Linked DNA regions of Homo sapiens: region 1 is linked to region 2. The links come from fine-mapping of genetic effects on gene expression. Tissue or cell type: sun-exposed skin. Region 2 holds a variant in brackets; the other region holds the start of a gene. All regions are shown on one strand. Distances are between the middles of the regions.

Region 1 (4,481 bases), 35 kb before region 2:
GAGGATACTTTGAGTTTTTGTTTTTTTGAGACAGGGTCTTGCTTTGTCTCCCAGCCTGGAGTGCAGTGGTGCCATCACAACTCACTGCAACTTTGATCTCCTGGGCTCAAGTAAGCCTCCCAAGTAGCTGGGACTACAGGTGCACACCACCATGCCCAGCTAAGTTTTGTATTTTTTGTAGAGACGGGGTTTCACCATGTTGCCCAGGATGGTCTAGAACTCCTGGACTAAGGGATCCACCCACCTCAACCTCCCAAAGTGCTGGGATTACAGGCATGAGTAACTGTGCCCGGCCGAGGATCCTGGATTTTGAAGGCCCCTGGATGACAGTGAATGTGATGCTGTAGGCCACGGGGCTTCCTTGAAGAGTTCTGGGTAAGGATGCAGTGTGGTAAGCTTTATATTTCAGACAGTTCATGAAGTTGTGTGGAGGACAGATTGGGGGAATGGGAGCGTGAAAGCCAGGGACAAAGCTGGGCAACTATTGAAATGTCTATAATACATTTTATATGCTGACTGAGTACAAACATAGAGGTGACCATGTGTCTTGGCTGGCTGGAGACAATTCTAGATTACAGCGTTGGTCCCAGAGTAATTATATTAACAGCCACTTTCATGCTCAAACATGTCTCAGTCTGAAGATTAAATATCATCTACATACACACACCAACAAAACTTCCACAATTCTTACCTTTACTATGTGAAATGCACTGATATTTTATTCTGTTTTTTTATTTTTATTTTTTATTATTTTTGAGACAGAGTCTCGCTCTGTCACCCAGGCTGGAGTGCAACAGTGTGATCTCAGCTCACTGCAACCTCTGCCTCCTGGGTTCAAGTGATTCTCGTGCCTCAGCCTCTCAAGTAGCTGGGATTACAGGCATACGTCACTACGCCCAGCTAATTTCTGTATTTTTAGTAGAGACGGAGTTTCAGCATGTTGGCCAGGCTGGTCTCGAACTCCTGACCTCAAGTGATCCGCCTGCCTCGGCCTCCCAAAGTGCTGGGATTATAGGCGTGAGCCACCTCGTCTGGCTTTTTTTTTTTTTTTTTCAAAAAAATGTTGGTTGCAACCTATTAAATTGATTTCGTGACACACTAGTTCATAACCCTCAGTTTGAACAACTCTGACCTAGACGCCTGCCAAGTCTTGGGAAAATAGGAAGGAGACAGATAATTAAGTTTGGGAGATGCATAGTCTAAGGCCAGGGTTCTCAATGTTGGCAGTGCAAGATCACGTGAGGTACGACTGAACACGGAGATCTCCAAAACTGCGGAGAGTTTTGCGTGTGAACGTATGCACAGACATCTACATGGAAATGGCTGTAACGCATCCAGCCATAAGGCGTACGAGGGTATATATACTTACAGAGTTAAGAACCACTATTCTCAGGAGTTATATGACAGCCTGGGAAGACGCCCAGGATGTAGGAACAGGGAGCAGGCGAGCGTGTGGCACCTTGAGGGTGCTCCGCGCGTCTCCGTAAAGCCAACGAGCCCCTCCTCTTCGCTGGCCTCTCCGGGGCCTTGCTGACTAGTGGTCGAAGCCACAGGACCAGGTGCGGGTGGCCAGCGTAACCCGGGCAGCCCCGCTGCTTCCCCTCGGCCGCGCCAGGACGCTCGGCACGCGGCGACGACGGCCCCACAGTGCCCCGCGCGCGCAAGCGCAGGCTGCGGCTCCCGGCGTGCAGCTTGGTGGCGGCTGAGCCGGCAGCGGGCCGCCTCAGGCAGCCCCGGCCGGGCCGCCCGGGTCCCCGGCAGCGGGGTAGGATGGCGCTAAAGCGGATCCAGAAGGTACGCACTTTCCCACCCTCCAACTCTTTGGGTGTCCGAAGCGTCGAGGTGTGGGCGGGGCGCCGCTGCCGTGAAGTGAAAGGTGACGGAGGCTCCGCGAGTCGCGGATACACCTGCCTGGGAAGGAGGCAGAACAGCCTCCCGCGCAGCCTGAAAAGCGAACGCAGCCTGAGAAAGGGATTGCGCGAGCGCGGGGCGGGGCCGGGCCGTGGCCACGAGGGCTGCGTCATGCGGGCGGGGCGCCGTGGGGCCACCTGCAGGCTTCTGGACAGCGGGTTCCCCCTGTAGGGTATCCAGAAGGGCTGGGTGGGTATCCAGAAGGGTATCCAGGAAGAAGCTGGGTCCTAAGGGATGAGTAGGAACTCGGCAGGTGGGGAAAAGGGGAAAAGGCTTTCCCTGCAACGGGGAGACTACGAGGCTTGGAGGACTGACAGGGTAGCGGGGAAGCTGAAGGGCAGATGGTGTGGACTTGGGTGGTCCTTAGGAGCAGTGCTGAAGTAACTGGTTTTTATCCTGCAGGTAAGAGGGAGTCCATGAGGGTTTAATGCATTCACTAGAATTTGGAAAACGCACAACAGTAGAAGAAAGAAGTATTTCTAATTCTATCACTTTACTATTTGTTAACATTTTAGCATACCTACCTTCAGTTTTTTTTCTATATTTAAAACAATTATACTGCATTTTGTATTCCACTTATTCACATAATAGTAAATGTAAGCATGTTGTGAAGTAGTATTTATAACTTTTTTTTTTTTTTTTTTTGAGGTCTTGCTCTGTCGCCCAGGCTGGAGTATCGCCCAGGCTGGAGTACAGTGGCACAATCATGGCTCACTGCAGCCTCAACCTTCTAGGTTCAAGTGATCCTCCCTCCTCAGCTTCCTGGGTAGCTGGGACTACATGCCACCATGCCAGCCAATTGTTTATTTTTTGTAGAGACAGTGTCTCGATATGTTGCCCAGGCTGGTCTCATACTCCTGGGCTTAAGCGGTCCTCTTGCCTCTGCCTCCTAAAGTGGCGGGATTACAACGTGAGACACCATGCCCAGTCCTATAACTAATTTTTAACATTAACTTTCCACAAGTACATGACTAGTAACTTATTTAGTCATTACCTGTAGTAGGTAAAAGTATGGACTTGGGTGTCAGACAGACCTGGGTTAGAGAATGTGAGGTCACTTATAGTGGGACCTTGGGCAAGGCACTTTATCATTCCTAGCCTCCCAGTCCTACATGTTTACAGAGTTGTTTTGAGAATTAAATGCTATGAAATGTGTTTAGCACATGCTTGCTGTATACCAAACACTCAATACGAGTTAGCTGCTGTTATTGTTCAAAATTCTTCACTAAGTATTTGCTGTTACGAACTGTGTATTAGTCTGTTTTGTGTTGCTATAAAGGAATATCTGAGGCTGGGTAATTAATAAAGAAAAGAGGTTTATTTGGCTCTCGGTTCTGCAGGCTGTACAAGAAGCATGGTGCCAGCATCTGCTTCTGGTGAGGCCTCAGGAAGCTTACAATCATGGCAGAAAGCAAAGGAGAAGCAGGCGTGTCACCTGGTAAGAGAGGGAGCAAGAGAGATGCCACCTCTTTTAAACACCCAGATCTCACATGAACTAATAGAGTGAGCACTCACTTATTATTGTGGGGGGGCCACCAAGCCATTCATGAGGAATCCGCCCCCACGACCCAGATACCTCCCACTAGGCCCCACCTCCAACACTGGCGATCACATTTCAGCATGAGATTTGGGGGGGACAAATATCCAAACCAGATCAACCATCATTGTACAATGAGCCTTTTCCTTAATTCACATTACTGGGTTTGATTGCCAGAGGTGGAATTACAGGATCTCTGAGAGTATGACTCTTTTTTTTTTTTTTAAATAAATAGCTGTCCAAAAGAGAGATAATTCTGATGAGTTATTCTCTGAAAGGGGTCATCTGTCATCCTAGGACTTTGAAGCAGGTGAATGACATGCTGAGATCTGTGTTCTAAAAAGATCTTTCTGGCAGCAGTGTGGCCGGAAGTGGGACAGAGGGAGACTAGAGGCTGTTGTGAAGGTTCAGTAGAGGCTTTGTCCAAATTAATGACCATGGAATGGATGCTAGGCCAGAGCAGTGCCTGGACCACATTGCAGAAGTGGAATTGACAGGACTCGAGGAGAGGATGTGGTGAAAGTGAAACAAGGAGGTGTACAAAATGGGTCACTTAGTGGATGGTGGTGTCAGTGTCTAGGATGGGGAATCAGAAGTTTTGAAGGCAGGGAGGAGGGTAGGAGAGATTAAGGAATAAAGGTTTGAGCCTACATATTCAAATGTGTAGGCTGATAAGATTTATAAAAGGGAGCGTTTGGAAAAACAAGTTTGGGCCTTGAGCATGAAATGTCAACTATAGATCCAAGGTAATTGAAATCATAAGGCCAGGGAGAACTTTTCCTTGATAAGAATCAAGGACAGGCTGGGTACAGTGGCTCATGCCTATATCCCAGCACTCTGGGAGGCCGAGGCAGGTGGATTGCTTGAGTCCAGGAGTTGGAGACCAACTGGGCAACACAGCAAAATTCCATCTCTACTAAAAATAAAAAAATGGCCGGGTGAGGTGGCTCATGCCTGTAATCACAGCATTTTGGGAGGCCAAGGCGGGTGTATCATTTAAGGTCAGGAGTTTGAGACCAGCCTGGCCAACTTA
Region 2 (4,481 bases):
ACCCATTGAGTGGTTACAGGACAGCCAACAGGAAACTTAAACAAGAAAAATGGGAGCATGAGAGGGATAAGGGCGAGGGGGTCTACATAGGGCAGGCCACATCCTCTCCTCTTTAAAACCCATCAGGGTTTCCATTACACATAGAATAAAACCCAAAGCCCTTCCCTTGGCCTCTCCTTCTCCCTGTGTCCCACTTCTCAGACCAATTAAGCTGGCTCCTACCTCAGAACCCAGTCTCTGCTCCAGGGTTAGTTACCTCCTCTAAGGCTTTCCCTGGCCTATCAAGCTGAAACAGGTTTCCATACACTGCAACAGGAAGCAGTATCATGCTCCCTCAAACTTCTCACCACTAGAGACTCCTCCTTATAGTCTTCTCTACATGGAGCTTGGTCACCTCACTGAGCTGATCTAATTCCAGAACACAGAGACCTGCTTCTTTGGCCTGCACAACCTGGTTTCAGGTAAGGGTAGCTTCTCCTCAGGTAGACTAAAATTTGAAAAGTGCTCCCAGACCTCCTAGGGCTTCCACCTGGGACTGGTGGCCAAACGGGTGAAGGAACCTGACAACTAGAAGGTGATTAAATAGGAGTATTCCCAGACAAAGAAGAGAAAAAAAGGTATGTTCACCAAAGAGAAGACGGTATAAGTACCATAAGACTGATGGCCAAACTCCTCTAGAATATGGAGACTGGGGGCAGAGGGATGAGGGGGCAGAAAGTCACCTGAGGGTCTGGTCTGAAGGAAAAACAAGCAGAGATGTTACTGAAGTAAGGGGGGAAAAGACTGAAAATTAGGAGATCTGGAGAGCCTCTATTTATGTAAATTCACTTTTTCTAATGTAAACAGTAGTGAAGTCAAAGTAGAGAAGTAGGGAGACCTGCACTGTGGAAAAGAGAAAAGATTGAAAAGAAGATCCAGGACGAATTCAAAGGAGGGGTGAAGACTGCAGACTGGACTGCTAAGGAGAAGAGATATTTTGCCACAACTTGAGACTTCTCCAGGTCAGGATGAAGTAACTGTTTTCCTCTCAGAAATGTCAGAGCTTCTGCCTGTAAGACAAGGCAGTGGTTCAAATGTGTCCACCAAAGTTCATATCTTAGAGGCTTGATCTCCAGTGTGATGGTGTTGAGTGGTGGGAGGTGGGAGGTGCTGAGGCTCTCATGAATGGATTAATGCCATTATTTTAGAAGTGGGTTTGTTACCCGAGAAGGGTGTCCAGGTTCTTGGTGTCATGAACAAAGAATTGGACAAAATGCACAAAGAAAGCAAGGAAAGAATGAGGCAACAAAAGCAGAGATTTATTGAAAATGAAGGTACACTTCACAGGGTGGGAGTGGCTTGAGCAAGTGGTTCAAGAGCCTGGTTACCGAATTTTTTGGGGGTTAAATATCCTCTAGAGGTTTCCCATTGGTTACTTGATGTACACCCTTGTAAATGAAGTAGTGCCCACAATCAGTCTGATTGGTTGAGGGAGGGGACCTATCAGAGGCTGAAGCAAGTTTCAAAGTTACACCCTATGCAAATCTCTGATTGATTGGGAAAAGGCTGAAGTGAAGTTACAAAGTTATACTCCTATGCAAATGAAGACTTGGCCCATGACCAGCCTCATTGGTTGTGGAAAGGGACCAATCAGAGGTACTTTCAATTTTTCATCTACCATGCAGAAAAAGGTTGGGGGTGGGGGTTGCAAAGGAAGTAGCCAAACAAACTCTGACTACAAACAGAGGTCCCAGTGGGTAGGGGGCTGGGACAAAGCTTTTGGGGGAGGGGGAGGACAGAGGACCTTGGGGCTGGGGGATCTAAGCTGGCCCCTCAATAAAGGGCCTCCTCGCCACCTCCCAGCCCACTGTCCCACCTCTGCCCTTGGCTCTGTTCCTTGCCTCCCTCCTGTCTGACCCCATCTGCCTCCTACAGGAGGAGCCCACCCACCCCCAAACACCTCCCAGCGTTCTGGGCCCAGCTCCTTCCCAGGCCTCACTGGTGCGACTCAGCTCCAGCTGGAAGAGCAGGTCCAGGAAGTCCTTGGCCAGCCCCTGCCCCAGGAAGAGCTTGAGCAGGTTCGTGGCCACGTCCTGGCGACACTCGGTGCTGGTTGTCTCCTCGATGAGTGGGATCAGCTGCCCTGGGCCCTGCAGGGAGAGGCACGGGGGATCCC[G/A]AACCTTTCCCTCTGAGGACCTCAGAGCATCCCAGGGAAAGAGGACATTTTCCCAAGGGGTGGCTGGGGATGGGGCCCTGGACACTGGCCAGCTCCTCACATCCCCAGACCTCAGGTTTCTGCTCTGCAGAATGGGTTTGGAAGGACAGGCGCACAGGCCTACTGCCACTGGACCCTCCCACCCTGCCCAGGTCCCCTCACCTGCATGCCCAGCTTGACCTCGTGGCACAGCAGGTGCACCAGTGGCTGGTAGTAGCTGGAGGGCAGCACCGTCTCGTCCCGCAGCCGCACCTCCAGCTGCAAGGAGCCCAGGTTGCCCCTGGAATGGGCAGCCTGTGACCTCTCCACCAGGGACTCAGGCCACCCTGGACCACACCGCTCCCATGGCCTCCAGTTTTTTCCCTTGGGGCCAGCCTCCCATCTCTCTGCTCATGCCCTCCATCCGGGTGCCCTGCACAGCTCTGCCTCCCAGGCTCTGCCCGGGCTATTTATTTTCTGTTTTTGGAAAGCCCTTCCTGTCTCTGCACTCAAGGCACCTCTATCTGTCTTCGAGGTGTGGCTCCCTGCCACCTCCAAGCTTGGGTATGTGGAGCTGCCAGCCTTGAATCTATCAACTCCCAGATAATGGCACCATCATGGGTACACTTTACAGCAGAAGCAAATCCCCAACCCTCATAACAACCTAATAGGGAAACTGAGACCCGAGCCAGTTCAGCAACTTGCCACATTAGATTGAGCTTCCCAGCTTCCCTGTTCTGATAGGGAAGTTCAGAACAGAGGAGGGTGTGGACCAAGTGGGAGCCTCTAAGGCTCCCACTGCCCGTGCTCAGCACGAGCCTCATGCACAGAGCAGTGTTAAGATGGGCCCCTGGGCCTGGCGCAGTGGCTCATGCCTGTAATCCCAGAACTTTGGGAGGCCAAGGCAGGCAGATCACTTGAGGTCATGAGTTCAAGACCAGCCTGGCTGACACGGCAAAACCCCATCTCTATTAAAATATATATATATAAATTAGCCAGGCATTGTGGCAGGTGCCTGTAATCGCAGCTACTCGGGAGACTGAGGCAGGAGAAGCGCTTCAACCCAGGAAGCAGAGGTTGCAGTGAGCCAGGATTGCACCACTGCACTCCAGCCTGACTCTGTCTCAAAAAAAATAAATAAATAAAAAATAAGATGGCAAGATGGGCCTTGGCTGGTTCTATGGAAACACCTTGTGCTGGACACACAGCCGTCCACCTGCTCCTACCCTGTTAAGGATGGGAACTGGGGGAGTGGGGGTCTGGGGCCTTCCACAGAGACACAAAGCTGAACCATTGAGGGCTGTGGGCCACAGCAAACAAGCCAGAGGGCTTCCTAGACAGGCTGCCAGATTTAGCAAAACGACCCAAGACACCCAGTTAAATGTGAATATTTTATTTACTTATTTTTTTTTTTTAGAGATGGGGTCTTGCTATGTTGCCCAGGCTGGTCTTGAACTCCTGGGCTCAAGTGATCCTCCTGCCTTGGCCTCCCAAAGTGCTGAGATTATAGGCATGCGCCACCATACCCGGCCTAAATTTGAATATTTTTAGTATAGGTATGTCTCAAATAGTGCATGGTCATTCTTCTTCTTTATTTATTTATTTTTTTTGCTGAGATGGAGTCCTGCTCTGTCACCCAGGCTGGAGTGCAGTGGCACGATCTCGGCTCACTGCAGCCTCCACCTCCCAGATTCAAGCAATTCTCCATCCTCAGCCTCCCAAGTAGCTGAGATTAGAGGTGCCCGCCACCACATCCGGGTAATTTTTGTATTTTTAGTAGAGCCTCACCATGTTGGCCAGGCTGGTCTTGAACTCCTGATCTCATGATCCACCCGCCTCGGCCACCCAAAGTGCTGAGATTACAGGCATGAGCCACCGCACCCAGCTGTTTTCTTGAGACGGAGTTTCGCTCTTGTCACAGAGGCTGGAGTGCAGTGGTGGGATCTCGGCTCACTGCAACCTCCATCTCCTGGGTTCAAGCAATTATCCTGCTTCAGCCTCCCAAGTAGCTTGGATTACAGGTGCCCACCACCATTTTTTGTACTTTTAGTAGAGACGGTGTTTCACCATGTTGGCCAGGCTGGTCTCGAACTCTTGACCTCAAGTGATCCACCCGCCTCAAACTCCCAAAGTGTTGGGATTACAGGTGTGAGTCACCACGCCCAGCGGTTATTCTTATACTAAAAAAGTATTCACAGCCGGGCACAGGTCAGGAGTTCAACATCAAGCCCGGCCATCACGGTGAAACCCCATCTCTACTAAAACTACAAAAAATTAGCCAGGTGAGGTGGTCCTAGCTACCCGGAAC

Alleles and levels. Positions count from the first base shown, and alleles are read on the strand shown. Sizes are in standard deviations (SD) of each study's normalised expression.
For the expression in sun-exposed skin of the gene that starts at base 1,674 in region 1, allele G in region 2 goes with a higher level than allele A (small effect, 0.26 SD a copy in GTEx).

The links. PIP is the estimated chance that this variant, and not a neighbour inherited with it, causes the effect.
Region 1: it holds the start of UBE2D4, and the variant in region 2 is fine-mapped to the expression of UBE2D4 in sun-exposed skin (GTEx, PIP above 0.99). The same link has a PIP of 0.9 or more in unexposed skin.

The regions. Positions count from the first base shown.
Region 1 is chr7:43,924,763-43,929,243 of GRCh38, forward strand. UBE2D4 (ubiquitin conjugating enzyme E2 D4) reads left to right here and starts at 1,674. Exons shown (of 7, transcript NM_015983.4): 1 at 1,674-1,794. The coding sequence starts at 1,771. It also overlaps a transcript of URGCP not described here. RefSeq lists a silencer at 1,568-2,107.
Region 2 is chr7:43,959,617-43,964,097 of GRCh38, forward strand. It overlaps the pseudogene POLR2J4. Among named protein-coding and RNA genes, the nearest start is that of UBE2D4, 35 kb to the left of the region's middle. The variant G/A (reference allele first, on the strand shown) is at 2,156.